Linked DNA regions of Homo sapiens: all the other regions are linked to region 1. The links come from fine-mapping of genetic effects on plasma protein levels. A gene starts in region 1. Each other region holds a variant in brackets. All regions are shown on one strand. Distances are from middle to middle. Region 1 holds the start of HSBP1 (heat shock factor binding protein 1). Region 2 overlaps CDH13 (cadherin 13). Region 3 overlaps CDH13 (cadherin 13). Region 4 overlaps CDH13 (cadherin 13). Region 5 overlaps CDH13 (cadherin 13).

What was found. PIP is the chance, under the fine-mapping model, that this variant and not a neighbour inherited with it causes the effect. The UK Biobank Pharma Proteomics Project read protein levels with antibody pairs (Olink). The fine-mapping took linkage between variants from a reference panel, not from the people measured, so its PIPs are less certain.
Region 2: its variant is fine-mapped to the plasma level of the HSBP1 protein (UK Biobank, PIP above 0.99).
Region 3: its variant is fine-mapped to the plasma level of the HSBP1 protein (UK Biobank, PIP above 0.99).
Region 4: its variant is fine-mapped to the plasma level of the HSBP1 protein (UK Biobank, PIP 0.99).
Region 5: its variant is fine-mapped to the plasma level of the HSBP1 protein (UK Biobank, PIP above 0.99).

Annotation. Positions count from the first base shown.
Region 1 is chr16:83,805,500-83,809,499 of GRCh38, reverse strand. HSBP1 (heat shock factor binding protein 1) reads right to left here and starts at 1,522. Exons shown (of 4, transcript NM_001537.4): 1 at 1,379-1,522; 2 at 754-820; 3 at 75-195. The coding sequence starts at 1,423. The coding sequence ends at 77. RefSeq lists silencers at 1,086-1,375, 1,393-1,569 and an enhancer at 1,227-1,728.
Region 2 is chr16:83,766,274-83,772,797 of GRCh38, reverse strand. All of the region lies in intron 11 of CDH13 (cadherin 13), which reads right to left. All of the region lies in intron 1 of CEDORA (CDH13 antisense oligodendrocyte and neuron associated lncRNA), which reads left to right. Among named protein-coding and RNA genes, the nearest start is that of CEDORA, 3.4 kb to the left of the region's middle. RefSeq lists an enhancer at 3,186-3,325. The variant A/T (reference allele first, on the strand shown) is at 3,243.
Region 3 is chr16:83,723,417-83,729,940 of GRCh38, reverse strand. All of the region lies in intron 10 of CDH13 (cadherin 13), which reads right to left. CEDORA (CDH13 antisense oligodendrocyte and neuron associated lncRNA) reads left to right here. Exons shown (of 4, transcript NR_188499.1): 2 at 942-1,073; 3 at 4,353-4,466. Among named protein-coding and RNA genes, the nearest start is that of CEDORA, 46 kb to the left of the region's middle. RefSeq lists an enhancer at 1,503-2,003. The variant ATG/G (reference allele first, on the strand shown) is at 2,665.
Region 4 is chr16:83,774,060-83,779,340 of GRCh38, reverse strand. The region is part of intron 11 of CDH13 (cadherin 13); the gene reads right to left. It also overlaps the pseudogene LOC124903810. Among named protein-coding and RNA genes, the nearest start is that of CEDORA, 3.8 kb to the right of the region's middle. The variant A/G (reference allele first, on the strand shown) is at 2,062.
Region 5 is chr16:83,783,279-83,789,802 of GRCh38, reverse strand. It overlaps CDH13 (cadherin 13), which reads right to left. Exons shown (of 14, transcript NM_001257.5): 13 at 6,331-6,524. Among named protein-coding and RNA genes, the nearest start is that of CEDORA, 14 kb to the right of the region's middle. The variant A/G (reference allele first, on the strand shown) is at 3,509.

The DNA of each region.
Region 1 (4,000 bases):
CAAAACTCCGTGTCAAAAAAAAAAAAAAAAAAAAAAAGAAAAGAAAAGAAAAAAAAAATTGCCCCCTTCCTCACCTTCAACTCTTTTGCGTGGCAGGTATCTTGTTTTCACTTTCCAGTTCTTCCACCCCAGCCTGTGTCATGAGGTCCGCGATATTCTTTTCCAGATCATCAATGCGACTACTCATATCATCAAGTGCTGAAGTTAAAGACAACGCGTGCCAACATCTCATTGAGCCTTTTTCCTCCCGTCCCTGCAGACTACAGCCTTAAACACAACGACTTTAGGGAAACTGGTCTTCCAATTTTCTTTCGACACTGTTACACGCTGGTGGGTAAGAGTACAGGACTGTGGGGCATGGCTACCCCGCATCGGATTCCAGCCCTGACCCTTACTAGTGATGGAACCCCTAAACCTCAATTTATTCATTTGCTAAAGATGATAACACTACAACCCACTCATAAGGTCATGCTGAGCATCAAAAGACACACACAAAAGCGCTTAGTTCACAGTGCATGGTCCACCACACCAGCTATTAGGATTGGTAGACGTATGCTCCTTGAGCCAGGAGTCTAACTCAGCTTTGCCCCTAGCTCTCGGCGCAGTCCTTCTCAGAAACACAGTACAATCCAAGCTCAAATTCTACAAGTGAATGGCTGAAGCTAGCCTGAAAACTACTCATTTATCCCCACCACTGCCCGGCAAATAGGCTCCAAAGGCCCACAGGAGGCCGACTGCAGATAAAAAGGATATTTCTCCCAATGATCTGGTCAGACATGGTCTGAAATTTATCTTGCATCTGCTGCAGGAGTGTCTGCACCTAAGAAAAACCGAAACAAACAAACACGGTCCACATCGATCCTGAGACAACTTCCTGGGATCAGGACGCAAGCCCTGGTCCCGGGGTTCCAGCCCCATTTCTGCCTCTGGACAGCTGTGCGGCCTTCAGCAAGATCTTCCTTCTCTGGGCTTCCGTTTTCCAACCTGTCCAATTAGACTGCTGGGCTGGGGAGGCCGCTGCGACTCAAAGCTCAGGGTCTTTAGGTTGTTTCTGCCGGGCTGGGGCACCCGGGGGTGTGTGAGGAGTTGAAGGGCGGGGAGGGTGTCAGAGGTAGGCGGGAGGGACCCGGAGGGCGTTCGCGACAGATGAATGGGGCTACTGGAAGGGGTCGGGCTTGGGGGCGCCCGCGGGGAGACTGGCCCGCACCGAGCGCCCCGGGGGTCAAGGTGGCCGGGAGCCTCGGCCAGAGACGCTTCCAGAAACGGGGCCTCGGCAGACGCCACGCGCGGCCGCGGTGGGCGCGCCTCTGTCCAGCAGGGCTTGGCCCGGCGCCGCCCGGGAAGGCCGCGGCCTCCGGCCCTCACAGCCGTCCCTTACCACCGAGGTGAGGTCCTGCACGGTCTTGGGGTCAGTCTCGGCCATCTCCCCGATGCCCAGCTTGGCGGTGATGTCTCAGACCGTAACCTACACTTCCGTTTGTCCGCTCAGTCGCCCCGGGCCGCTGCTTCTCGCGACGAGACTGGCAGCTCGCGGGACCGCGGGGCATTATGGGAGTAGTAGTTTCTCCCGCACCGGAAGGGCCTCGAGGCCGCGCGCTTCCGTTCCAAGGAGCGGCCCCACCCCACTCTCCCCGCCTTCTTTCGCATAGCCCCTCCCCTCCCTCTATGCCCCGCCCCTCACGCAGCGCGCCGTCAGTGGGGTGGAAAGTGAGACCAACTCAGAAATGGAGCAATAGAGGCAGGGAGTGGTCTTGGCCTCTCTTCCAGGCTGTAGTCAGTCGAAAGACGGCTCTGGGGTTTCTTTGGCCTGTCGGGACGAACTTACAGAACTTTTGCCCTTCAACAAGCCCCACTGTACCCTTGTAACTGCCCCCAAGCCAAGGAACATGACCCACCCCTACCCGCCCCGGGAGCCCCATGGCTCCTGTCCTGTTCTGTCATCTCCACCCTATGAAGGTGGCCAGCGTCTGGAGTTTAGCCCAGTAGGTTCATTGTGCCCGTCAGGTTCATATGAGGGGATTCAGACAGGAAGCTGTCCATCATGCCTGGCTTCTTTCACTCCACGCAATGCCTGCTGTTGAGTGGGGAAGGCTTCCGGCATCAGGGTTAGACTGTGGGTTTGGGTGTTGAAGGAGGTGGGCACTGCTGATTTGGAACCTCAAGTTCCAACCCCACAGGTGGTCTTTAGGATTGGGTCTCATGGCAAGGGGATAGGAGAGTCCTTGACTGCGGGCCTGGCATGTTCTGGAAACTTTCACACATCTCATTTAAGGACTGTGCTATGTGAGGGGTCAGCTCCAGTTTGACTTTAGCTAGGGAGAGGCTGTAAGGTGTTAGAGCTGTTACGGGAAAGGGTCCTGATCCAGACCCCAAGAGAGGGGGTTCTTGGATCTCATGCAAGAAAGAATTCAGGGCGAGTCTGTAAAGTGAAAGCAAGTTTAAGAAAATGAAGGAATAAAAGAATGGTTACTCCATAGACAGAGCCCTGAGGGCTGCTGGTTGCTCATTTTTATAGTTATTTCTTGATTATATGCTAAACCAGGGGTGGGTGATTCATGCCTCCCCTTTTTAGACTATATAGCGTAACTTCTTGACGTTGCCATGGCATTTGTAAACTGTCATAGCGGTAATGGGAGTGTAGCAATGAAGACAAGCAGGGTTCACTCTTATTGCCATCTTGGTTTTGGTGGGTTTTGGCCGGCTTCTTTACCGCAAGCTGTTTTATCAGCAAGGTCTTTATGACCTGTACCTTGTGCTGACCTCCTATCCCATCCTGTGACTTAGAATCCTTTAACTGTCTGGGAATGCAGCCCAGTAGTTCTCAGCCTCAGTTTACCCAGCTCCTATTCGAGATGGAGTTGCTCTTGTTCAAACGCCTCTGCCAGACCCACCAGTGTCTCTAACAAACCCGGAATCCAGTTGGCCTTGAGGCATGAGACTTCAACTCCCTTTACCACCCCTTCCCCCTCACTCACACCTTTGCCCCTCACCCTTCACACCTCATCCTTTCCTATAGAGAGATCTTCCTTTCTGTGTAAGTATACACAACTTTTTTGTAATTGGCTGTTGTCAACTGGTATTTGGCTAGTGCTTTACCCGACTACTTGAAATAAAAATATCTCAGTGTTTTAAGTTAATCCTCAGAAGACCCTGTGATATAATTATCATAATTTTACATTTTTGAGAAAACAGATGCAGAGGCGTTAAGAAACTGGAACAAGGTCATCAAATTAAGGAAGTAAGAGACGCAGGACTTCCTGACTCTGCATCTTCTCCTTTTTTCTCACCATTCTAGAATTCTCTGAGTTTTTTGAGCTTAGAGCAGAGTTTCTCAAGAGCTGCAATACTGGCATTTGAGTCAAGTCGTTCTTTATTGTTGGTGGTGGAGGGGGCACCCTGTATATTGTAGGACGTTGGGCAGCATCTCTGACTTCTACCTACTAGATGCCAGTATCTCAGTTTTCTTAAAAGACTTTTTTTTTTTTTTTTTTTTTTTTGAGATGGAGTCTTGCTGTGTTGCCTAGGCTGGAGTGCAGTGGCACCATGTCGACTCACTGCAACCTCCGCCTCCCCGGTTCAAGCGATTCTCCTGCCTCAGCCTCCTGAGTAGCTGGGATTACAGGTGAGCACCACCATGCCCAGCTAATCGTAAAAGACTTTTCATAAAACTTCAGAACTCCTTAAAAACTAGTGAATAGCCAAGGTGAAGAAAGCCCTCAGGCTTCTGACTTTAGACCCCAATCCCTGGGACTCCCACACTCAGCAAAGAAAGCTGGGTGCCTGCACCCTGGATCTCTGAGCAAACCTGTCTTATGGCTGTGGGCAACTCAGGAACATGAATTAGCACGAGAATCTGGAGTTTTTCTTTCCTTTTCTGGTAAGACACTTGTGGTTTTTTTTTTTCAAATTCCAATTGGAAATTTGCTTTACATGAACAACAAACAAACTTGATACTCTTTTAGTGGAGGCATTATTTGTTCCTTTATTTTTTGCACTTAAA
Region 2 (6,524 bases), 38 kb after region 1:
GGAAAGCACAGGTAAGGCAGAAGCAGGGAAGTGAGGTGAGGGGTGGTGTATCCATGAAAGGAGGGTTCCAAAAATGAATGATAAGAATGGTCATGTCACACCAGGAGTGTGGTACTGTGTGCACCCGTTGGCAAGCGACTTAATGAGATTGCTTTAAACATGGCTTGATTTTAATTTGTAGAACAAAATTGAATCCATGATTGATCCACAAGGCCCTGTGAAGTGTTTTGTAAAAATATACACTAAGTCTTTATGGTCAGAGTTTCTTTGATGCCGGGAGTTTCTGCTGACCTATATTCAGTGTTATAAGTAATTGGATTTTTCTTTTTAACCAGCAGTTGCAGACTGGCATTTGGTCTGCTAATTTATCGTGTTTCTGGGATGTCCAGTGTTCTAAGAATTCTTATTTTTTATCCAAATGGCTTCAAGTGGAGCACATATTTCCAAGATGACCACTGGTCCTTTCCAGCCTACTGCCTCTGCCCTGGCTTCTAGCAGCATAAGACTTGGGCCTTCCTCATATGTTCCCTCCTAGCTAACCTGACTTTAGCCAGTATAGATTTTTCTTCATTTCTCCATTCCTGAAGTATGGCTCCCTCCTTTCTCTTAAGCATGTCTTTCAGTCTTATACTACTTCTTTTCTTAATATTGAGTCTATTTGTATACATGGATAGTTTAATAGGCATCTCATTTAAGGTTCTCAAATAAGTATACAAGCTAAAAAGTCACCCCCCATCCTTCTCCACCCACAGAGTGTACATTGTGTTGGGTGATATCATGGGGAAAATACCAGGAGCAAACCTTAGCTGCAGGAATCTCTTTTCTCTTGTGTCATTGACTTCTTATTAGAAAGACATGTGTTTTGGTTACAAGGTTGGCAATTCCATCATGCAGCAGTGTGAATGGGATGTAAGGAGATATTTTTAATTTTACCTCCTAATACAACCATATCAAATCCCATTTCCAAATGAGGAAATGAGGACTTGTAGGCACAGATATCTGGAAACAAAGCCTATTTAAAATTGCTTAGTAGGAATGACAGTTTTCCTTCCGACCCATTTTCAGTGACAGCCTGTCACTCTTGACTGAGAGATCTCCAACCTACAAATGTTGGTGGGTTATTTATTTTGCAAGCAGCCCTCCTGCTGCCATACAATGGCAAGTCTTGAGGGGGAAAGGGTTATCATTTTCTTTCCTTTGGATCTGAGTTACTGGCTCTGTTGCTCTAGAGGACTATGCCTTTTAGACCATGGCGGTGCTTTTGCTTCATGGACTTGGCACCCTGCCACGGTCTTCCTGGCATTCAACCTCTGCTTGCCCTTGTTTCTGGCTTTGTCGTTCCCACTCAGCACTGACAACTTGTAAGAGCCTCAGCACATTATATGACCACGATAGGACCACATGGATTCCACTGCTGGATTTCAAACTCCAATAATTAACCTTGTATTTCTTCAAGTTGAGCAGTGATAACTGCCTATGAGATGGCCAAGTTGGCCACCTGGCCTGCCTGGGTTACTCTTGGTCTGGTTGGCTCATGACTTACACTTAGCCTTTTGTGATCTTGGTGTAGGGAGGGCAGAACTGTGCGTTTTCTAAGAGAAGCAGGGTAATATGATTAATAAAAGGTGAAGATTTACGTAGAGGAATCGAGCACCTGTTATCATACAGTCTAGGAAAAGTCCAAGCAAACCAGGCAGGCTGTTGCTTTGAGCACATGGGGGTCTACATTCTAGTTTTTTCTCATTTTCTAGAAAAGAAAACTAGACACTCAGATTAAGGAAAATGTCCAAGGTGCTCTAACATTAGTGTGTCAGAGGCATTGAAATCAGAGCAACTCCATCTTGAATAGGTGCTGGGTAAAATGAGGCAGAGATCTACTGGGCTGCCTTCCCAGGTGGTTAAGGCATTCTAAGTCACAGGATGAGATAGGAGGTCAGCATAAGATACAGGACATAAAGACCTTTCTGATAAAACAGGTTGCAGTACAGAAGCTGGCCAAAACCCACCAAAATCAACATGGTGACAAGGGTGACCTCTCGTGGTCCTCACTACTGCACTCCCACCAGCACCATGACAGTTTACAAATGCCATGGCAACATCAGGAGGTTACTCTCTATGATCTAAAAAGGGGAGGCATGAATAATCCACCCCTTGTTTAGCATATCATCAATAAATAACCTCAAAAATGGGCAACCAGCAGCCTTTGGGGCTGCTCTGTCTACGGGGAGTAGCCATTCTTTTATTCCTTTACATTCCTAATATACTTGCTTTCACTTAATGGACTCGCACTGAATTCTTTCTTGCGTGAGATCTAAGAACTCTCTCTTGGAGTCTGGATCGGGACCTCTTTCCAGTCACAAGCATGTCACCTGTTTAAGAGCTGTGGCCCCCTGGCAGGGCATCCCCATCCCTGGAGCTTTCTGGCTATTCTATAAAGTGAATGGAATGCCTGGCAATTGTAAAGCACTTCCCCGTCCATAAGAGCCAGAGCCACAGAGCTCGAAGTTTGAGTATTTTGGTGCTTGTGGTTGGTACTAAACACTGGTAGAAAGGGTAAAAAACAGTTTCCTGTGCTTTTCTTACCTACATGGCCAACAGTATATTGCTTTGTGTGGGAAGCCTGTAGAACTGAACCAGGACTCCTCCAAGAAACATGAGCCACGCGTGGTTCTCCTGGCATTGCTTTGACGCTGTGGGTGTGGATGCAATGAGAAACAGGGTCAGGTTTTGAAACCATCCCCACAGGGTTGACGGGAATTGCATGCCAGGTTCTGGGTACAAATACAGTTATAATTCAGCGTTAATCAGGCTGCACCCTGGCCCAGTTCCTTGTTGCAGTAGGTCATGTACCGTAACCAAGTACCCTGATTTTTCTGAGGTGGTTTAATTACTTTTTTCTCTTCTCTTCTCCTTTCCCCTTTCAGCCTGCTTCCTACCTAGCCCTTTTTGAAATGCAAAATAACCTCTCACCTCCCCCTCACCACACATTCCCTACAAGGCAAGGTCATCTACGTGCCCCAGTGATCTCTTCTCCAGAATTGACAGTCAATTTGCAGATCAAAGCACATCTCCACGGAACTCCCACTTCTGGGGTGGCCTCAGGAGGACATGGTGAAAACACGCCCACTTGGCCACTTTTACAACTTATTTCTGCCCAGGAAGGCACCAACTCAACTGTATGCCAACTCAGCTGTTTGGTAGATAAGACACCAGGCTAGCAGGGGGACTTCCTGCCCTTGCTC[A/T]CTTCCCCTTTAACCTTATAAACATGTCTGCTTTTTGCTCCAAAGATGAAGCAGCACACTTAAAGCAGGACACTTTGTGTCTTTCCAAGCTAGCTTCAAAAATAAATTCACTTTTCTTGTACCAGGCCTGGATCTTGTTAATTGGACTCTGCTGCAGTGAGTGGCTAACCAGTTCCTCAGTTACAGTAGCACTAGATCCTGACATTTGCTTCCCCACCGTTCCCCTAGATAGGATCTCTGACATTAAGGCCAGAAGACTGTTTAAGAATTGATTTGCATCCCCATTGTTCCTATAGACACTTAAGATGTTTTTCAGACACACCTCCCCAGAATTCCAGCCACCAGTTGGAAGTCTCCCACAGGGGAACAGGATCAGCATGAGAACACAGCTGCTTCCTCTCCCCTTCCTATGACTTCACCCTGTACTCTTGATCTCCACACTTCTGCCCACTCCAAAGCCCTCAAAAACCCAAGCCTCAACTTCCTTGGGGAAATGGCTTTGAGGTTCCCTCCCATCTTCTCGTTCTGTGACCCTGTGGTCAAGGTGTTTGAACCAGAGCAACTCCATCTTGAATAGGAGCTGGGTAAAATGAGGATGAGACCTACTGGGCTGCATTCCCAGACGGTTAAGGCATTCTAAGTCACAGGATGAGATAGGAGGTCAGCACAAGATATAGGTTATAAAGACCTTGCTGATAAAACAGGTTGCAATAAAGAAGACGGCTAAAACCCACCAAGACCAAGATGGCGATGAGAGTGACCTCTGGTCATCCTCATTGCTACACTCCAACCAGCACCATGACAGTTTACAAATGCCATGGCAACATCAGGAAGTTACCCTATATGGTCTAAAAAGGGGAGACATGAATAATTCACCCTTTGTTTAGCATATCATCAAGAAAAAACTATAAACATGGGCAACCAGCAGCCCTTGGGGCTGCTCGATGTCGTAGCCATTCTTTTATTCCTTTACTTTCCTAATAAACTTGCTTTCACTTTACTCTGTGGACTAGCCCTGAATTCTTTCTTGCATGAGATCCAAGAACCCTCTCTTGGGGTCTGGATCATGACCCCTTTCCATTAACACTATGATTAAACCTGTTTCTCTGCTGCAACCTGGTGTCATGGCATATTGATTTGCTGTGTGCATTGGTTAACAAACCTATTGCGATTACAATTTGTGTGTGTGTTTTTTTGTCTATTTAAATTTCAGGGATTTTATTTCATGAAAAACCTTGACCAAACAGGATTTCCACTTAGCTAAAAAACACTGAGATTTTTTTTTCACAGGTTCTGTTGTTCAGTAGCTATATATATAAGTGCTTTATATCTTGTCATTAATAGACATAACTAAAAACATAGTGTGATCCTAATTTAAAAATCTACATATGATTAGAGAAAAATTAGAAAGACATATATAAAAATGTAAGTGGTGATTATTTCCCTAGGTAATTAACATTAAAATAATACATTTATCTATTTTTAATTTTCTTTACAATAACCATGAACATGTTAAACTCAGAATTATGCAGGGATTAAAAATATTTTTTTCTAATTCTACTTTACTTTTTTCTTACTCTTTATTTTTGCGACTATTAATTTTTAGTACATTTACAGAGTTGTGCGACCATCACCACTACCTACTTTTAGAACATTTCATCACCCCCAAAAATAAACCTTGGGCCAATTTGTACTAACTCTTCATGCCCACTCCCAGCCCCTGGCAACTACTGATCAATTTTCTGTCTCTACAGATTCGCCTATTTTGAAGATTTAATATAAATGGAGTCATATAGTAGGTAGTTTTTTGGGTCTGGATTCTTTCACTTAGCATAATGTTTTTGAGGGTTGTACATGTTGCAGTGTGTATTAATACTTCATTCTTTTTTATGGCTGAATAATAATCCATTGTATGGATAGACCATGTTGTTTATCTACTCACCAGCTGATGGACATTGGAGTTGTTTCCACTTTTTGTCTATTACGAATAATGTTTCTGTATTAGTCTATCCTCATACTGCTAATAAAGATATACCCAAGACTGGCTAATTTGTAAAGGAAAGAGGTTTAATTGACTCACAGTTCCACATAATCATTCAGAAGGAGAATGAGAAGCAAAGTCACAACTTACATGGCAGCAAGCAAGGGAGCTCATGCAGGAGAACTCCCGTTTATATAACTATCAGATCTCTTGAGACTTATTCGCTACCATAAGAACAGTACGGGGAAAACTGCCCCCATGATTCCATTACTCTAGATGGCCCCACCCTCGACACTTGGGGATTATTACCACTCAAGGTGAGATTTGGGTGGGGACACAGCCAAACCTCATCAGCTGCTATCCACATCGGAACACAAAGGACTAGATATACATGTTACAAAATTTCTAGACCAGTAAGACAAGACTCCAAATGCCTCTCCCAAGAGGGTCCCATTAGAAGAATAGGATCCCTGGTCTTGCCACAGTGAGATGGTATATGAGTCCATTCTCATGCTGCTATAAAGAATTGCCCGAGACTGGGTAATTTATAAGGGAAAGGGGTTTAATTGACTCACCGTTCCGAGTTGCTGGGGAGGCCTCAGGAAACTTACAATCATGGCAGAAGACAAGGAGAAGCAGGCATCTTCTTCACAGGGTGGCAGCACAGAGTGAGTGCAAGCAGGGGAATGCCAGATGCTTATAAAACAGTCAGTTCTTGTGAGACTCACTCATTACCATGAGAACAGCATGAAGGAAACTGCCCCCATGATTCAGTTACCTCCACCTGGTCCTGCCCTTGACATGTGGGGATTACAATTAAGAAGAGATTCTGGGTGGGGACACAGCCAAACCATATCAGATGGGTTGGTTTCATAGGCACAGAATGTTAGGATCTCAACACAAACTTTCAGAAGTTAGCTCTGAGAAGTCTTAGAAAGTAGTAGACTTTTCCAGCCACTTGTCCCAAATCTTCCCAGAGGTAGGCCCAGAGGCATGCAGCATATGTCTTACCTTGGAAGTTATGAGTACAAGTGGTTTTATTTGGAAACAGTGTGCAAAGTGAGGTTGTCTGTGTGAACAATGAAATGTAGGAAGACAGAGAACAGGGAAAACAGGAAGCCCATATAATAAGTGCTCAGCATATGTTTGAATTCTTAGGTTGATGCACAAGTAATTGTGGTTTTTTGCCATTACTTGCAATGGCAAAAACTACAATTATTTTTGTGCCAACCTATAATTTGATTTAAAAAACAAATATGTATGGCTCTTCCTGTAAATGTAATCATATATGTTTGTATTTC
Region 3 (6,524 bases), 81 kb after region 1:
CAGGTCAGCTTCAAAACCCCTCTTTGTATGAAGCCCTGTGTGCCAAACCCTTCTTTTTCACAGGGCTTGACATACAATCCCAAACAGATTTGCTGCTGCTGGCTGAGAAAATACCTTGGAAGGGAATGCTAGTGGCAGTTGCGGTAATAATTATGATCATGATGATGATAATAATAGAGTCACAGATAATATTTATTGAGCACTTGCTTTGTGCCAGGGAATTTCCAAGCACTTTACATGGGTCAGCTTATTTAAGTCTAACAATAACTTCATGTGGGTGGGATTACTGACCCATTATATAGATGAAGAAACAGAGGTGGTGAGGGACTAAGTAGCTGGGTCCAGGACACACAGCTAGTAAGTGATAGAGTTGTCCAACCATAGCGCCCATGCTCTTAACAGTGATGCCTCGCTGTCTGACCTGGGTCTTAGGAGTAGTGGTATCTGGCTAGTGGGATTTACATCTTTCTTAGTTTTGCCTATCTCAGTTGCTAAAATTTTTACCATGAGCCTATATTTGTTTTGCAAATAAAATTTTTTTGGCAATAAAAAGACTAGTAATACAAAGATGATTTCCTTTATATCTCTACATTTCCATTTTCTCTTCTTTGTGAAACCTTATTACTATAGATGGTATATTTACTATATATACATACACATATGTATAATATGCATGTCTTATCTATGATATGTAACAGTATATGATGTATATGCACATAAATAATATATCCATTTTATACTTGTGAACTGAACATTTGTTGCTGTTCCCCCCAAATTCGGATGTTGATAGAACTCTAACCCCCATTGTGGCAGTACTTGGAGGTGGGCCTCTCCTTAGGAAGTTAAGGTTACATGAGGTCATGAGGATGGAGCTCTGATCTGATAGGATGAGGATCCTTATAAAAGGAGACCCTGTATGCTCCCTAATCCCCACCCTCCAGGTACATGCCCCAAGGAAATGAGGCTACATGAGGACACAGCAAGAAGGTGGCTGTCTGCAAGCCAGAAAGAGAGCCCTCCCCAGAGACTGAACCAGCTAGAACCATGATCTTGGACTTCCAGCCTCCAGAACTGTGAGTAATACATGTCTGTATTCAAGCTGCCCAGTCTGTGGTATTTGGTTATGGCAGCCTGAGCTAAGACAATACTATCTAAATATTAGGTTGAACCACACAGTTGCCATTTCTCTCGTCAAAACCCGTCACATCAGCAATTTCACATGGCCCAACCTAATATATAAACATATATACAATAAAAACGGCATGTCGTAATTGTGTGCTTTCCTTCCTGCTGGGCACAGTGCTTTGAAGGCCGAGAGACACGCTTATTTATCTTTGCTTTCTCTTCTCTCCAGGCTTCCATTGGCACTTGGTAAACACTGGTGACTGAGTGGGTAAATTACAAAGATGAGCATTTTGAATTCCTCTTCCAACAGAAGCTTTAATGTAGTTCTTATCAAGCCTAATTCACTCACTAAAAAGAATTGCATTGCACATATTGGCAGGAGCTATTGAACTGTTGTTTGTCAAGACCTTTTCTCCTCGTTTCATAGGGACTCAAACTAAATGTATCTTCACAACACACACACACACACACACGCACACACATACACATACACACATAGCCAGTGCCATTCAACTGTTAGCGAATCACACCGCTTACGGCTCACAGGCTTGTGGGGTCAGCCCGTGAGAACAGGCACCTTCTCTCCAGGGCCCAGTGTGCACATCAAAGACTTAAACCCTGTGGTCGAGGATAGACTCTGAGACAGAGACGTGGTGTGTGGCTCTGAAGCCTGCCCGCGGTGCTGTTCCCCCTTTCCAGGCAGCGTGCTCACTGCTGTCCACATCTGAGTATGTGTTGCCGCATAACAGACTCCTCAGAGGAGCTGTGGCTCTTTGTACAGTCACAGTTTTCAAAAGCTTTTGCCTCACAAAAGAAAAAGCAAAGCGCCTTCCCTCAGGCAGTTTTCAATTCTTCCCTCCAAATCCATCAGTCAAACTTGATACTTAAACCCTTGAATCCCAAAAGCTCCTTTGAGAAGCGAGCCCATTAGCAGCGGGCGGGAATGGCTGCCCTCCCCGCCAACGCCCCTGTTCACTCCCTGGGCTGCCCTGCTGTGACTGGTGAGCAAAGTTGTCAGCCAGTTCCGTCAAGGGATCTGTCATTCCCAAACCTGTTTGGTCCTTAGTCCTCCTGTCCTGAACACACAGGCCTTTCCTGGAGAGCTAGCAAGCCTAAGACTTTTTTGGCCTTTGAATGCAATTTTATTTTTTAGGGCTTCTAATGTTGATGTACTAACATTCTCGGCTTATAAAATCTCCAATGTTGATATTTCATTTAGTAAAACTGATATTTTTCTTTCTCAATGCGGGAAGGTTGGAAGGTTCTCCTTTGAGAACCCACTGCCGCAGTGGTGATCTCTGGAACAGGTGGATAGGTGTGCACTAAATAAAGCAAGCAGAAGAAGATGTGCTGGGAGAATCTCGGTGATGGGGCAAAGGGTGCTTGCTATAAAATTCTTCCAACGTTTCCACATGTTTGAAAACTGTTCTAAAGTTGAGAAAATACAATAAAATGATGAATGTGTCTGTTCTCTAAACACTCAGCAGCGTCCCTTCCCACGTAGATGTCTTTCTGCTACAAAACCATTAAGGATATCAC[ATG/G]TTAGCTGATTTCATTCCGATGAAATGTCCGTACTAGGCAAACCCACAGAGACAGGAAGCTGGTTAGTGGTCACTAGAGCAGTGGGGAGAAGGAAGCACGTTAACGGTTAAGGGGGATGGGGCTTCTCTTTAGGGTGCTGAAAATGTTCTAAAATCGAGGGCGGTGATGGTTGCACAACTCTGTGACTACACTAAAAACCATTGAATTGTATATTTTAAATGGGTGAATTGTACGGTATGTGAATTATATCTCATAAATCAATACAGCTGTTATACATGGGAAAGATAACTTCAAGGAAGGGAGGTATCCATGATTTCCAGGGCTGCTAAAACAGAACAAAACAAGGCACAAACCAAACACTCCTCCCTCGATAGTCTTCAGAATACTCTTGACTGACAGAACGCCAAAAAAGGACGGTGATTTTTTTTTTTTTTTGAGACAGAGTCTTGCTCTGTCGCCCCAGGCTGGAGCGCAGTGGCGCCATCTCCGCTCACTACAAGCTCCGCCTCCCGGGTTCACGCCATTCCCCTGCCTCAGCCTCGCGAGTAGCTGGGACTACAGGGGCCCGCCTCCACGCTCGGCTAATTTTTTTTTGTATTTTTAGTAGAGACGGGGTTTCACCGTGTTAGCCAGGATGGTCTTGATCTCCTCACCTCGTGATCTGCCCGCCTCGGCCTCCCAAAGGGCCGGGATTACAGGCGTGAGCCACCGTGCCCAGCCAACAGTGATGTTTTGATTTTTCTTCCATTTTTTGCCCGTTTAGCAAATACTCAACAAACAAAAGACGTGCAGAGTCTCCCCTGCAGGGCCTGCCTTCTTAGTGGCAATGGCTGCAGCAGAAGGGGCCAAGATAACGATTTGTCTGGAGAATGAACAAATAAATAAATAAATGAATGAATGAATGGACCCTATCTAGGGTCCTTGTTTCTCCAAAACCCGAACAGACACCCCGGTCTTGTCACAAACTTGGCCTGTGACCTGCAGCACATGACTGTCACTCTTGGGCCTCAGTTTCCCCATCTAAAAAACAGAGGTCATGTGAAATGATGGTCTCTAAGGTGCCTTCTAACTGATACATTATGACAATCTTTCCAAAAGCAATTGTTATTCAATGGCTGAGCAAAAAAGTTATAAAATTATCCCTTGTGGGAAGATTCAGACCAAGGTCCAGTTTTCTCTACATGAAAATGCAACACTTTACAATGTTGTGTAAGTGCAGAAAGTGAAAAGACAATCATTAAAAAGCTGAGAAAAATAAAGTCAGGAAAGAATGCTACATAAATCGCTCAGTCTGACTTCAAAGGGAAATTTTTTTCCAAAGTAAGATCATGAGAATTGATTTATGTCCTCAGAGCCAATGCAAATGCAGGATTTGTACAATATCCATTTATCAGTTCCAAAGGAGCTGATTTACGGCCCACCTCTTCTAGTTTGTATTCTGTCCAGCTCAGAAAGTTAACTGACAACACAGAAAGAAATATCCTCTGTCTCATTGCAGATGACGGGTTATAAATGAGCACAACTTGATTCTCTGTTCTGGAAAATTAGTGTTTTGAAACTCTCATTAGAAATTAGTCATTAAAGCTGTTCCCAAACTTGCCTGCTTGGCCCATCACTTTGTTGCTGTTTTTGGTTGTTTAACGTTCTGACAATGTCAGCCAGAGAAACGACTGCCTTTGTCTTAGGTTATTCTAGGTCGACTTCCGTGTCTGGATGTAACCAAATCACCAGCCAGACCGTGACCAGGACACATCATACCGCTTGCCCCCGGCAGAGATCCTGTGCCCACATGTGATAAGGTGGGTGATGCAGACCTGGTGCTCAGTATGTCAGTCACAAACTGTGTAGGCCTGGAGGAGGTGGAGACAGAGGTACCACTTGACCCTCCTTCCCAGATTAGTGGAGAAGACGGAACTCATGTTTCCCAGACTGACGCCTAAGGATAGATTAGATCCACAGGATACACAAGACCCGTTGCAGTCCTGCCTGTGTGTTGAGTGAACGGATCTAGCTCTCTTGGCCACCATGCCTTTGTTTATCCCATTTCCTCTGCCTGAACATCCTTGCCCTGGTCTACCTGCAAGTCTGAGCCCAGCTGTCCCTTCCTTCCTTGACTTTGACTGATGTGCCTTTCTCTCTGCTGCTGTTATATTGTAGTGTTTTCACCTCAAATGTCACTTTCATCATAGCTTTTATACTAAAAGGGTCTGTTTATTCATCTCTTTCTTTCTCTAGACTGAGTGAAACTGGATGACAGAGGCCATATGTGTCGTGGTGACTGTATATCCCCACTATCTGTGAATCAGGGCTTAATTTGCATTGATTGGCCTAATGAGGACACCAATAAGGGAGTCCCAGGGGTAGGATGATCCTGCAGCTGGAAGAAAGGCTGGGAAGCCATATAGAGTTGTACCCAAAGGCCATCTCAAGGGAGCAGCTCCTGGCTGCAGGTTACAATATAGCCCCTGCTCACCCAGCTGGTTGTGTCCCTGCTGACACTTCATCAATCATCTTGCTCCTGACGCTGACACTGCTCAGGCTGGGAAGGGAGGGGAAAGTAAGGATACAGGTGTCTAGGAGAGAGCTTAGGAGATAGGCTCCTTCAGTGAGATGGTAGGAGACAAGCCCCAACATAGTCACAGGGGGCTTCAAGTAAGACGCTTCCTCCAATCTGAGCTGGTTTGAGCTTGTACAACTTCATCCATCCATGTATCCATCCATTCATGCATTCATCATTCATCCATGCATTCATCCACCGACTCATGCATTTATCACTCACCCATGCATTCCACACTCATCCATGCATTCATCATCCACCCATGCATTCATCATCCACCCATGCATTCCTCACTCACCTATGCATTCATCACTCACCCATGCATTCATCACCCACCCATGCATTCATCCCCCACCCATGCATTCATCACTCAGCCATGCATTCCACACTCATCCATTCATTCATCACTCACCCATGCATTCATCACCTACCCATGCATTAATCACCCACCCATGCATTCATCATCCACCCATGCATTCCACATTCATCCATGCATTCATCACCCACCCATGCATTCATCACCCACCCATGCATTTATCACTCACCCATGTATTCATCACCCACCCATGCATTCATCACCCACCCATGCATTCATCACTCACCCATACATTCATCACCCACCCATGCTTTCCACACTCACCCATGCATTCATCACTCACCCACGCATTCACCACTCACCCATGCGTTCATCACCCACCCATGCATTCATCATCCATCCATGCATTCCACATTCATCCATGCATTCATCACCCACCCAGGCATTCATCACTCATCCATGTGTCTATCCATGCATCCATCAATTCATGTATCCATCCATCTATCCATCCATCCATCCATCCATCCATTCTTCCATGGATCTATGCATCTGTCCACCCATCCCCTCATTCTTTCAATATTTATTGTGTAGCTATTATATGTCAGACATTCTTCTTTACTCTGCATATATGAAAGAGAACAAGGCATGAAATTCCTGTTCTCATGGAGCTTCTGTTCTACAAGAGGAAGGGAGATCATAAAAATAGTTAACACACAATACGATAACTTCAGAGAGTGGTATGTGCTCTGAAAGCCGTCCCATTGGGCAACAGTACAGGGAGTGACCAGTGACAGGTGGGCAGAGTTGAGGAGGGCTTCTTTAGCGAAGGTGATCAGGGAAAGCCTTGCAAAGGAGATGATAGTGAGACTGAAGTGAAAAGGAGACAGTCACATGAAGGCCTGGGCAAGGGAGAACATTCCAGGCAGAGGGAGCCACAGTGAGCTGATGTCACTGAGGAGCCTCCAGCTAAGCAGCAGCTTGGAG
Region 4 (5,281 bases), 31 kb after region 1:
CCGCCTCCCGGGTTCAAGCGATTCCCCTGCCTCAGCCTCCCGAGTAGCTGGGACTACAGGCACCTGCCATCATGCCCGGCTAATTTTTTTGTAGTTTTAGTACAGATGGGGTTTCGCTATGTTGGCCAGGCTGGTCTCAAACTCCTGACCTCGTGATCCGCCTGCCTAGGCCTCCCAAAGTGCTGGGAATACAGGCATGAGCCACCGCATCCGGCCTTAAGACTTCTGATTGAAGTTCTTTAGGCTTAATACTTTACCCTTAGAATACTAAGCTTCTGACACACACTAAAAAGTCATTCTCACACACTGAAATCTATTCAAAGAATGGAGATAAATATGACTTTTCCTCACTTATCAAATTAAATCTTTTACATAAGTAGCCAGGTATTCACACATGTTGGTGGCAGGGGGAGGACGGAGTCTCCGTGAGAGATGGCCATGGTTTCACTGCTGTAGCTCTACTCTAACTGAGGAGTTGACTAAAGAGGGAAAGATTAAATCCAAGACATTTTCTTCTGGGGGTGAAAAAGAGTCTCAGATGGCTGATGGTGCCACTGGGGGCTGGGATGGCTGACCCTGCTGGACAGGACAGATTTAGAAAGCTGGGTTAGTGATGAGAAATGAGATCACTAGCTGGCTACAGGGGCATAGAAGCAATCATCATATAATCTTTGGACCTTATTTTTAAAGCCTTGTTTTTTTCCTGATATTTCAGCTACTTCCTGAAATGTTTTTCATTTTAGGAAATACTATTTTAAGATAATGGCCCTCATAATCACCAATCTAATAATGTCTTTCTTTCTTTTTTTTTTTTGGTGAGTCTCACTCTGTCACCCAGGCTGGAGTGCAGTGGTGTGGTCTCGGCTTACTGCAACCTCTGCCTCCTCGGTTCAAGTGATTCTCATGCCTCAGCCACCCAAGTAGCTGGGATTACAGGTGTGCAACACAATGTCCAGCTAATTTTTGTATTTTTAGTAGAGATGGGATTTCACCACGTTGGTCAGTCTGGTCTCAAACGCCTGACTTCAAGTGATCCACCTGCCTCGGCCTCCCAATGTGTTGGGATTACAGGCATGAGCCATTGTGCCCAGCCCTAATAATGTATTTCACTTAAACATTAAACAATGTTAATAAAACTCAGCTTGCCTTCATTTTTCTCTGAGTTCATCTTTAATCATTTGTGCATTAGAGGTTTGCTCTTGGGACAAACCATTTGTTAGTAGTTTCTAATTTTCTGCAAGAAAGGTTAGAGCCAAATTCATAGGTCACACATTTTAAGTATACAGATTTGCCTTATTCCCAAAATAATTTGAAGCACCTCTAAAATTACAGCACCATAATTTTATACAGTAGTACAATCGTTTCTTGGCCTCTTGGCTAAGATGAAGTACAGATCTGTTCTTATCAGTTTAATAAACTAATACTATACAGTACTAATCTAACCTATGGCTTTCTTTTATTTTTCTAATCCTTATTTTCACTTAGCCAGATTTCCAAGTATAATTTTATTTTCTCTTGTACTATATTTATGTTTTGAAACGCATATTAAGTTTGCAGTTAGGCTATCAGGTTACACGGGGGTTAGAAGGGTAGTGAGTATTTGAAGTTGGCATACAGGACGCAGGCAAGTCCTAGCAAAGAAGCAAGGAGACCTCTTTAGATGCAGACAGCTTATTACTTAGACAGTAGAAGCAGGCGTGGGCATGATGGCCTTGGCGCAGGTCATGGCAGAATAAAAGGGAATGGACAACTGCAACAGAAAGAAGGGATGTTGCAGTAGAGCCAACTCCAAGCTGCTTCTCAGCAGTTTTACAGCAGCAGCTGTGTCCTGAGAGGGGCAGGCAGAAAGCCCCCGCACCTCACAGAACCCGGAAGGCAATGAGAAACTGGCTGGGGGACCGCAGGGTGTTCTGCCAAGACTCAGCGCAGCTGCAGGTCATACCCTCCCCATGTGGCTCTACATGCAAAGTCATGGGGTGCCGTGGTGGAGCTGCTCCTCCAGAGCTGAGGGCACTGAGGATGGCATGGGCTCCTGGAGGGCCTTGAGTAGCATCACAAGGG[A/G]CCTGTACCAATTCTACAGAGTGCACGAGGCCACCAGAGGCTTTCCGGAAAGGCAGTGATCCAGGAACAATCTGATCTGACTTATCTTCAGAAAGCACACGATTGGATTGATAGGAAATGTGAGACCCTGCAGGCAGGCGGACCAGCCATGGATGAAGAGAGGCATGATGTGTGCAGCTCGAGCAGGAAAGCAGTGTCTTTTCTTGGTGATCAAGCACTCAGATGAGGCTGCCCGAAGAGCAGAGTGCAGTGGGAAGTGGGAAGACCAGCGGTTCAGTCTTGATTGTGCTAACGACCCCTTGAATTCAATGCACCTGTGCAGCTTGGCGGAAGTGCCCAGGCTGAGTTAGGGGTTGGGAAGTCATCAACACATAGATGGCTTTGAAACTTCTCTAACAAAGTGGTTACCCAGGGTGAAAGTTCAGAATGCCAGAGGGGTGGAATACGGAATCCTGAGAGACCCCAAAGTTTAAAGAGCAGATGCTAGTTTTGCAGGAGAGAATTGGAAGAGGAGTCAATGACCCATAATTAAATGTGTCATGACCCCTACGAGGATAAGAAGTGAAGAGAAGTAACCGGATTTTGTAAGGAGAATGTTACTGGTGACACTTTTGGAAGAGGTTTCTGTTAACGGGGAAAAAACCAGCTTAAAGGAAGCTGAGCAGTGAGTCATGAAGAAGTGCGAGCCGATACTCTTTAGCGGGGCTGGTGGAAATTTAAATATATCAACACCCAAAGACAGCTACAGAGTAAACATTCAAATAAATGTCTGCTAAAATAGCAACACAAATGCAATTGATCATTTGAAGGATGGCTATTTCTAATGGTGGCATATCATCAACTTTCGTTAGAGCGCAAACTCAAAAGAAATGCATAATTACTTTGAAGTTGGTTTTTCACTGTCAGTTTTAGTCATTTAGTTAAATTTCTTTACTGAAAAATTATTTTTCTCTTTTTATTGAACTAATTGAATATCTCGGAAGAATCCATTATGTTTTTTCACTCTGAATATATTATGAAGACAAGTCATTTGGTAGAATGGATGAGAAGGCGTTATGAGCATTTGAAATACGGCCATAAGAATTGGCCTTTTGTGAACTTAAGTATACTACTGTCTTCAATTTCCTATGTGTTATTCCCAGGCCAGGCTGGTGATGTCTTTTTCTGAAGTTAGTAAGATGAGTTTGTTACTTTGGGCGATGAGTTAAAGACAAGATTCACAAAATCCTGAGGGAAAGAGCCTCTCTCAGTTTCTATGCACGGGATAGAGAAAAATCACATCCAAAATTCAGGTGAAATTCAAAATTTCAAAATTCCTCACAAGCCCATTTGGCTCCAATCATTTCTGGGGCCCAGGAAATATAGGGGCTTCTAAGTATTCTCTAGATTTTCAGCAAAAATCCCTCACCCCTCTGTTCCTCTTTCCATCAGCAGCCTCCACCACCATGGAACCACTCATAACCAAGAATCAAAACCAAGGCACAGTGAAGACGGGGTCCCTCCTTTATGAATTTTCTCTTTCTTTTCTTTTACTTCTTTCTTTTTTCTTTTTTTTTATTTTTGAGACAGAGCGTCTCGCTCTGTCTCCCAGGCTGCAGTGCAGTGTGGCACGATCTTGGCTCATAAGCCACCACTCCTGGCCGGAATTTTCTCTTTCAATAGGGAAAACAGGTCAATTTGAGCAAAACACCCAGAAATGGAGCTAGAATGGGACTCCCTCTTTGCAGCTCCCTTCTGGAGGGAGCCCAGGGGCCATGTTCTCATGGTAGCCATTTTAAGGATCAGAGAAGTCTAACTTCTAAACATGTGGGGGTCTGGCTGAGTTTGTAGGGGCTTCTGTCTTTATAATGTTAGGAGCTGTAAGGACTGCTGACAGATGAACCATTCCAGCTTTCAGGTCTTCAACGTGGTTGGGAGGTGAGTTTCCAATTGGGAATCTGCTGAAGGTCATGGCCCCTGCCTCCAGAGAAACGCACCTGCATTCAGAAATATACCTGAAGAGTCCACAGACACGCAGATTGCAAGCCCAGGCTTGGTGCAAGATCAGAGCAGAAGATCTGAGGCCAATTCATTGTAGGTATGGTGAGGCTGAGGTCCAGAGAGATTTAGGACAGGCTCAAATGGACACCGTGAGTGTCAGGCCTCCTTCTCTAGAGCAAGCATTAACCTATACTTTCTCCACCAGAATTTTTATTACATAGCTTGAGTCTTACAGGCTCTCATTTTAACCATGAAAGCAAGCTATAATCCCTAAACCATAATTCCAGGTTATTATTATTACTATTTACAGCTTCCTTCTTATGAGCTGTTCTTTTCATTGTGGTGAAATATACATAACATAAAATTGACAATTTTTAACCACTTTGAAGTGTACAGTTCAGTGGTGTTAAGTACATTCAAATTGTTGTGGGAACATCACCACCATTCATCTCCAGAACTTTCTCACCATGCAAAACTGAAACTCTGACCCATTAAACACCAAGTCCCCATTCCCCTTCCCCTGGCCCCTGGCAGCCACCATTCCACTCCTTGTCTCTATGAATCTGACGACTCTGGGGAACCCATGTAAGTGGAATTTTTTATTTTTTTTTCACAAATAAATGGTAGGCCGGGTGTGGTGGCTCAGGTCTATAATCCTAGCACTCTGGGAGGCTGAAGTGGGCAGATCACTTGAGGTCAGGAGTTTGACACTGGCCTGGCCAACATGGCGAAACCCTGTCTCTACTAAAAATACAAAAAATTAGCTGGGCATGATGGCACGTGCCTGTAATCCCAGCTACTCTGGAGGCTGAGGCAGGAGAATCGCTTGAACCCAAGAGGCAGAGGTTGCAGTGAGCTGAGACTGCACCACTGCACTCCAGCCTGGGCAGCAGAGCAAGACTCTGTCTCAAAGAAAAAAAAAAAGAAATGGCATTTGACTAGGTCATTCTAAATGTATTTGAGATTCTTAGCTTCCTGTTCCTATTTTGCTTGCTGGAAATGACTATGACAGCCTGTGTCATAGTCAGGCTGGGTACCCAAGGAATCATCATTTCCAGCTAGCATAGTCATAGTTGTCCCTGTAGTAGGACAATAGGCAGGATAGGCGCTGGGACCAATGTCCTAGGCTTGCTGGTATCACCGGCCATGCACAGTAAAATAGCATTTACTATTTCTGTAGGACGAATAGCTCAGTAGCCGAAAATGATTATAGAGTTGAGTAGATCTTTTTCAGAGATAA
Region 5 (6,524 bases), 21 kb after region 1:
GGCAGTAGACCAGATTTGGTCTGTGTCTTAGAGTTTGCTGACCCTGCTTTAAAGAAACATCAAAGAGATTCTACCAGCTGATTTCCTTGCTCCCAAAATTCTTGTAAGGACTATGGCTGAGTTAGGAAGTTATGTACTTTAATAGCTAATTTCAGGCCTGGCGTGGTGGCTCACGCCTGTAATCCCAGCACTTCGGGAGGCTGAGGTGGGTGGATCACTTGAGGTCAGGAGTTTCAGACCAGCCTGGCCAACATGGCGAAACCCTGTCTCTACTAAAAATACAAAAAAATTAGCTGGGCGTGGTGGCAGGTGCCTGTAATCCCAGCTACTTCAGAGGCTGAGGCAGGAGAATCACTTGAACCTGGGAGGCAGAAGTTGCAGTGAGCCAAAATCGCGCCCTTGCACTCCAGCCTGGGTGACAGAGCAAGACTCAGTCTTAAAACAAAACAGACAAACAAAAAAAAAGAAAGCTACTAATTTCAGTGTTTTTTGAAATCACCCTCCTCCTTCTCCAATCCTTGCTTAAGGGTTTAAGCTCACTTCTGTGCAGCCTCTTCTCAATGTCATATAAATGGTAGCACACGTGGGTCGGCCACTTTGATGTCTGCTTTTATGCATTTGAGTGGTTGGGCACTGGTGGTTACCTGTTCCTGCTACCTCTGACCCAGATTCTTACATGTCTTATTATGTCCATCCCTTTTTGGTTAGGAAGAATGTCTTGGACTAGGTATATAATAAAACGTAAATCATGACATTTGGCAGGCATCTCTAACATTTAAATGAACAATATTAGAAAATCTTATGCCTTTTACACATGACCAGACCAAGTGTGTTTTTGAAGGTAAGTGGTAACACCTGTTTTTAACTGTTTTTTGGGGGCTGAAACTACTGTCTTTGTACAGCAAACCATTGGAGTGTCAACTGAATACTTTCCAGCTACACAAGGAGATCCAGAGTTTCACTGTGGGAATAATTTCGACTTTACACACAGGTGCCCCTACTTACAGTGAGATACAATCATCAGATGCTAGATGGGATGGCTCCCCTTAGACGAGCACATAAAGCACATTTGGTATTTCACAGCTAGTGTACCTGTGCCTGTCTTTTATCAATGATACCAACTGTGAAGCAATTCTTTAGGGATTATCAGGCAATTCTGCCTTAGATTAACTTGACCCAAGAGCTCAGTTGAGAGATGAGAAGTGGGAAATCCTTGGCAACCTGCTGATGATTGTCATCTGTAGATCAGGAGTCTCAAAGTGAGGACCACAAGAAAATCCCTTGTTGGTAAGAAAAAAATACTGCCAAGTCTTTTTTTTTTAATCTAAAAAAAAAAATTCAATGTTTACTAATACTTAATATATGGGGAGTGTTGGTAGCAGAATGTGTATTATTATAAAAATATTGTATAAAAATAACCAAACACTGGGCTTTGAGCTAGAGGCCCCTGTCACCTGGGATGTTGATGCCATAGGTTGGATGGGCCTGGAAATCTGTATTTTAACAAGCAGGTGCACAGCGGCTCTGGTCTCCATTTAAAACACTCATTTCCAGTCCCGAGTAGCTGAACCGTGAGCAGGGTCCTGCAGTGCCTTTGTTCTTCAAAGAGATGTCACGGAGTGAGGCTTTGATGTTCAGAAATTGGATTTACAGAGGGCAATGTGTGATGTAACCCCCTTAATTGTCTACTTTCTGGGTACACACACGTGCGTGCACACAAACATACATGTACGTGTGTATATGCATTCCCACTACACACACATAGAATTTTTATCTCTTTGCAATCACATAGGAAGTACTGCTCTCCGATTTATCCAAACTCTGTTATTCTTGAGTTCCAGTTGCTCCTGGATCTCTGCAGGTGTTGTTTTTTGCTCTGTCGCTTAGGCTGGAGTGCAGTGGTGTGATCTCGGCTCACTGCAACCTCTGCCTGGCAGGTTCAAGCGATTCTCCTGCCTCAGCCTCCCGAGTAGCTGGGATTATAGGTGCTTGCCACCACGCCTGGCTAATTTTTGTATTTTTAGTGGAGACGGGGTTTGGCCATGTTGGCCAGGCTGGTCTTGAACTCCTGACCTCAAGTGATCTGCCTGCCTTGGCCTCCCAAAGTGCTGGGATTACAGGGGTGAGCCACCGCACCTAGCTGCAAGCATTGCTTGTAGAGCAGTGGCTTCTAAGTGCTGGTCTTTGGGCAGTGCTGGGCTTGTGGTCTGTCTGGCGCTCACTCCAGAAGCTGGTGGAAAACGTAGATCTCTTACTGTAGTAGCGTTGGTCATAGTAAATGATTCGAATGTGTCTGCTGATAAGGGAATCCACTGCACCGTATTCAAATGACAGGATCCTCCAGCAGGAGGAGTAAATGGAGCAGAGCGGGGTTCAGCCAAGGAACGCTGTGGGCTGACTCTAACCTCAAGTCCGTGTTTGGATAGCTCCCAGGCAAAGAAGGGTTTTCACGTTTTTAAAGGGTGGTACAAAAGACAGAAACAAACAAACAAACAAACAATAAAGATGAATATGTGACAGAGACTAATATGGCCCACAAAGCCACCTGGCCCTTTACAGAAAAAGTTTGCTGAACGCTGAATTAGAGCAACGTGGATGGACCTTGTGAATGTAACACAGGTAGGAAGAAAAGTAAGTCGCAGAATGGTATGCCCAATATAATATGAATTACAGGAGGTTTTACAAACTGCACAAAATAGAACTGTATGTGTCATGTGTGAATGTGTGTGAGTGAGTGTATGTGTCAGTTTGTGTGTAGTAAAAGGATAAAACATCTGGACACACACATGAATAGCTAATTCATGGTAGCTATTGTTTCTGAGGAGAGAGAACAGAAAATAAAATTGGGCAGAGAAACATAGGCAATTTTACCTTTGCCTGTAATATTTTACTTTCTGAAGAAAGAGAAAGGAAGGAGCTGGGTGTGGTGGCTCACACCTGTAATCCTAGCACTTTGGGAGGCCGAGGCAGGCAGATTACCTGAGGTCAGGGGTTTGAGACCAGCCTGGACAACATGGTGAAACCTCGTCTCTACTAAAAATACAAAAATTAGCCGGGCATGGTGGTGCATGCCTGTAATCCTAGCTACCTGGGAGGCTGAGGCAGGAGAATCACTTGAACCCGGGAGACGGAGGTTGCAGTAAGCTGAGATGACGCCACTGTACTTCAGCCTGGGCGACAGAGTGAGACTCTGTCTCAAAAAAATAAATAAATAAGTAAACAAATAAAGGAAAAAAAGAAAAGAAAGACAAAGGAAAGAAGAAAAAAAGAACAAAAGAAAAGAGGGAGAAATATGTTTCCTTTCATTTATCCATCTGTCTGTCCATGCGTCCATTCATTACCATTCCCCAACGCCCTATTCCTCAAGCTCAAGTCGTAATCTAGAGCACAAATGAAAGTTTCTAGGGCACTGAGCTCAGGAATTCGTAGTTTGAAAATGTTTCCTAAGTGGTTCTGACGTGCAGCAGCATTTAGGAACTACCACTGCAATTAACACGTTGCTCTTATC[A/G]CACAGTGGCAATTGTGTACGGCAAGCCAATGAGAAGCTCAGGCCAAATTTAGTGTCAGTTAACTCCATCCCCAACTCTTCCTAGTTGGTTTCTCTTCCTTGTCAAGTTTAACTTCCTGTCTGGTTCACATTTTAATTCTGTAAGCTTCTGAAACACTTTCTGGAAAGTTGGTGCTATAGAAATTCTCATACTGGATGTGTTCTGTCATCTCACCGTACCCTCCTCTCTGGAGGAGGGATGGTGCCAGGTTTTCTGGCACCATCGGTAGCAAACATCTTCACACTTGTATTCTTAACTTTACTCTCCTCCACCTGTTTCCTATTGAGTTGTGAACCGAAGGAACCAGCACGTCTTTAGGGTGGGGACAAGATTGGAGGACACTGTTAGAATGTCCAGGAGCCTGTACCTAAACGTTGGAGTCACTCACCAGGACGGTCCTGATTTCCCAGTGTCTTCGGACCACCTGGTGAGGCTTTAAAATGGACAAATGTCTAAGCTGCCCTTCCAGCCATAGGGTAGGGCTCAGGTATGGGTAGCTACTTTTAAAAGTTCCCCAGGTGCTTCTGTTGTGCAGCCAGACTTGAGATCCACCACCATCTCCCCAGCTGATACTATGCAAGAGTGACTTGCAGGTTGCTAGTGATGACTCAGCAAACCAGGCCCCAGACAGCATACCCTCACGAAGGGAACATTCCTACACTCTAGAAATCTAGGTCTAGGATATCTGTCAGCAAAGCAAGGGGGCAAACAAGCATAATGTGTTGCTATAAATTCATGGTATCTGCTATGCTCTGAAGTTTGTGCCCCTCCAAAGTTTATATGCTGAAACCTGATCCCCAAGGTGATGGTACTACGAGGGTGGGCCTTTGGGAAATTAGTGGGTCAGGAAGTCAGTGTCCTCATGGATGGGATGGGATGAGATGCCCCAGAGAGCTGCCTTGCCTCTCCCATCATGTGAAAATGCAGGGAGAAGGCGCCATATGTGAACCAGAATGTGGGCTTTCACTAGACAATGAATCTGCCAGCATCTTATTCTTGGACTTCTCAGCCTCCAGAACCATGAGCAATACATCTCTGTTATTTATAAGCCACCCAGTTTATGGTATTTTGTTATAGTAGCCCGAATGGACTAAGACAGTATACAAACTCCTCTGGACCACCCCTGCTCAACGTTTAGCCCAATTGCTGTACAGCCGAATTATCTGTGCTTTGACAAGGTTTCCTAATTTCTTCTCAGTCCCCACTCCCATCTCTAACCCTTCATCTGAAATTGTCTCTGCTTTACAGAAAAGACTCAGGAGAAGCCTCCGAGGGGTGGCCTCTTGATTTCTATTTTCTCTCTCTCTTTGCAGAAGATAAAGTTAGAAAGCCAGTGAGATAATCGAGGTTAAGTGACATTAGTACCTGAGACAGGAGGGTGGAGGCAGGGATGGATGGAAAGTGTTGGACCCTTAGACTCTGTTGGGCTTTGCAGTGGGAAGACCAGGAAGGAGACATGGAGATGATGGTGATGATGATGGTGGTGGTACAGTCATCAGAGACAAGTCAGGCAGAGGGGCAGGTCAGGAGGGGAAGATGATATGTTCGCTTTCAGAAATGCCCAGTCTGAAGGGCCAGTGAAATGCTATAATGGCTTCTTGTTTCCTTTTTTTTTTTTTTTTTGAGACAGAGCCTTGCTCTGTCACCCAGGTTGGAGATCAATGGCATGATCTTGGCTCACTGCAACCTCCGCCTCCCGGGTTCAAGTGATTCTGCTGCCTCAGCCTCCCGAGTAGCTGGGACTACAGGCATGTGCCACCATGGCTGGCTAATTTTTGTATTTTTAGTAGACACAAGGTTTCACCATGTTGGCCAGACTGGTCTTGAACTCCTGATCTCAGATGATCCACCCACCTCGACCTCCCAAAGTGGTGGGATTATAGGTGTGAGCCACCGTGCCTGGCCCTTCATTTTTCCTTCTACTCACAGGACTCTGGTCTTGCACAGAGCTTTATATACGTGAATGTCCAATGTTGTACTATGTGATTTCCTGGCAGCTCACCACTGTCAGTAGGATAAAAAACCTTCTGTTTTCTTTTTCTGTCAATTTCCCAACTTCCTAATTCACAATTACACCGATACGTTCTCAAAAGGTAAATTGCAAGGCCCAAAAGGCTTTTGGATGGTAACAGTTATATATGAATAACGGCTAAAGTTAACATTGGACTAGTATTTCATAAATAAGGAATATCTGAGACATGTATTTATTAATTTTATCCTCACATCTATACTACTTGGCATAATAATTCATTTGTTAAAAACAATGTTTCATGATATTATAGTCATTATTACTAGCCAGTGAAAAAACAGTGTAAATTATGCATTTATCATTTTCCCTGCAGCCCACCCTCCATCCATAAATTCTCACGACTATTCTCAGAAAGTCTCATAATATCTGTTTTAACCTTGCAAAAGATTATTCTGCATAATGTAGAGAGAAACAGGCCTCTGATAGACTAGTTAACTAATCTGGGCGCATTTTCATTAGCTCAAGTTGAGTGGCAGCTGTAGGAAGTTTTGCTTACCACCTAGTTTGCAGGCTAGCAATGAACACCTTTGCACAATCCCTCAGACTGGCTGGCAGGGATTGTTAAGATGCCTTTAAACATCAGTGGGAGCACTTTTACATATAACATGTTCTATCATACAGACATACACTAAAGATGAATGATTCTTCTGGGAAACATCTTCTTGGAAAGGTATATGGGAAAATGCTGGCTTCACGAACCCAGTGAAGTTACAATTTCCTGTTTGTGCATGCACTGGAGTTAGGTCAACTTACAAGCTAAGCTGAAGAGGCTGAGGAGCAGGACTGAGGGCAGGCTGAAGCGCAGGGCCCCTGCCGCGTTGCAGTCCACTTTGGAATTCCTGCAGGAGCACACTTGTACCCTGAGATCTGTGATATTCGTCATGGGTGGTTTCCCTGAATCTGTCACCATGATGGGCAGGTTGTAGTTTGCTTTGTTCAGATTTTGA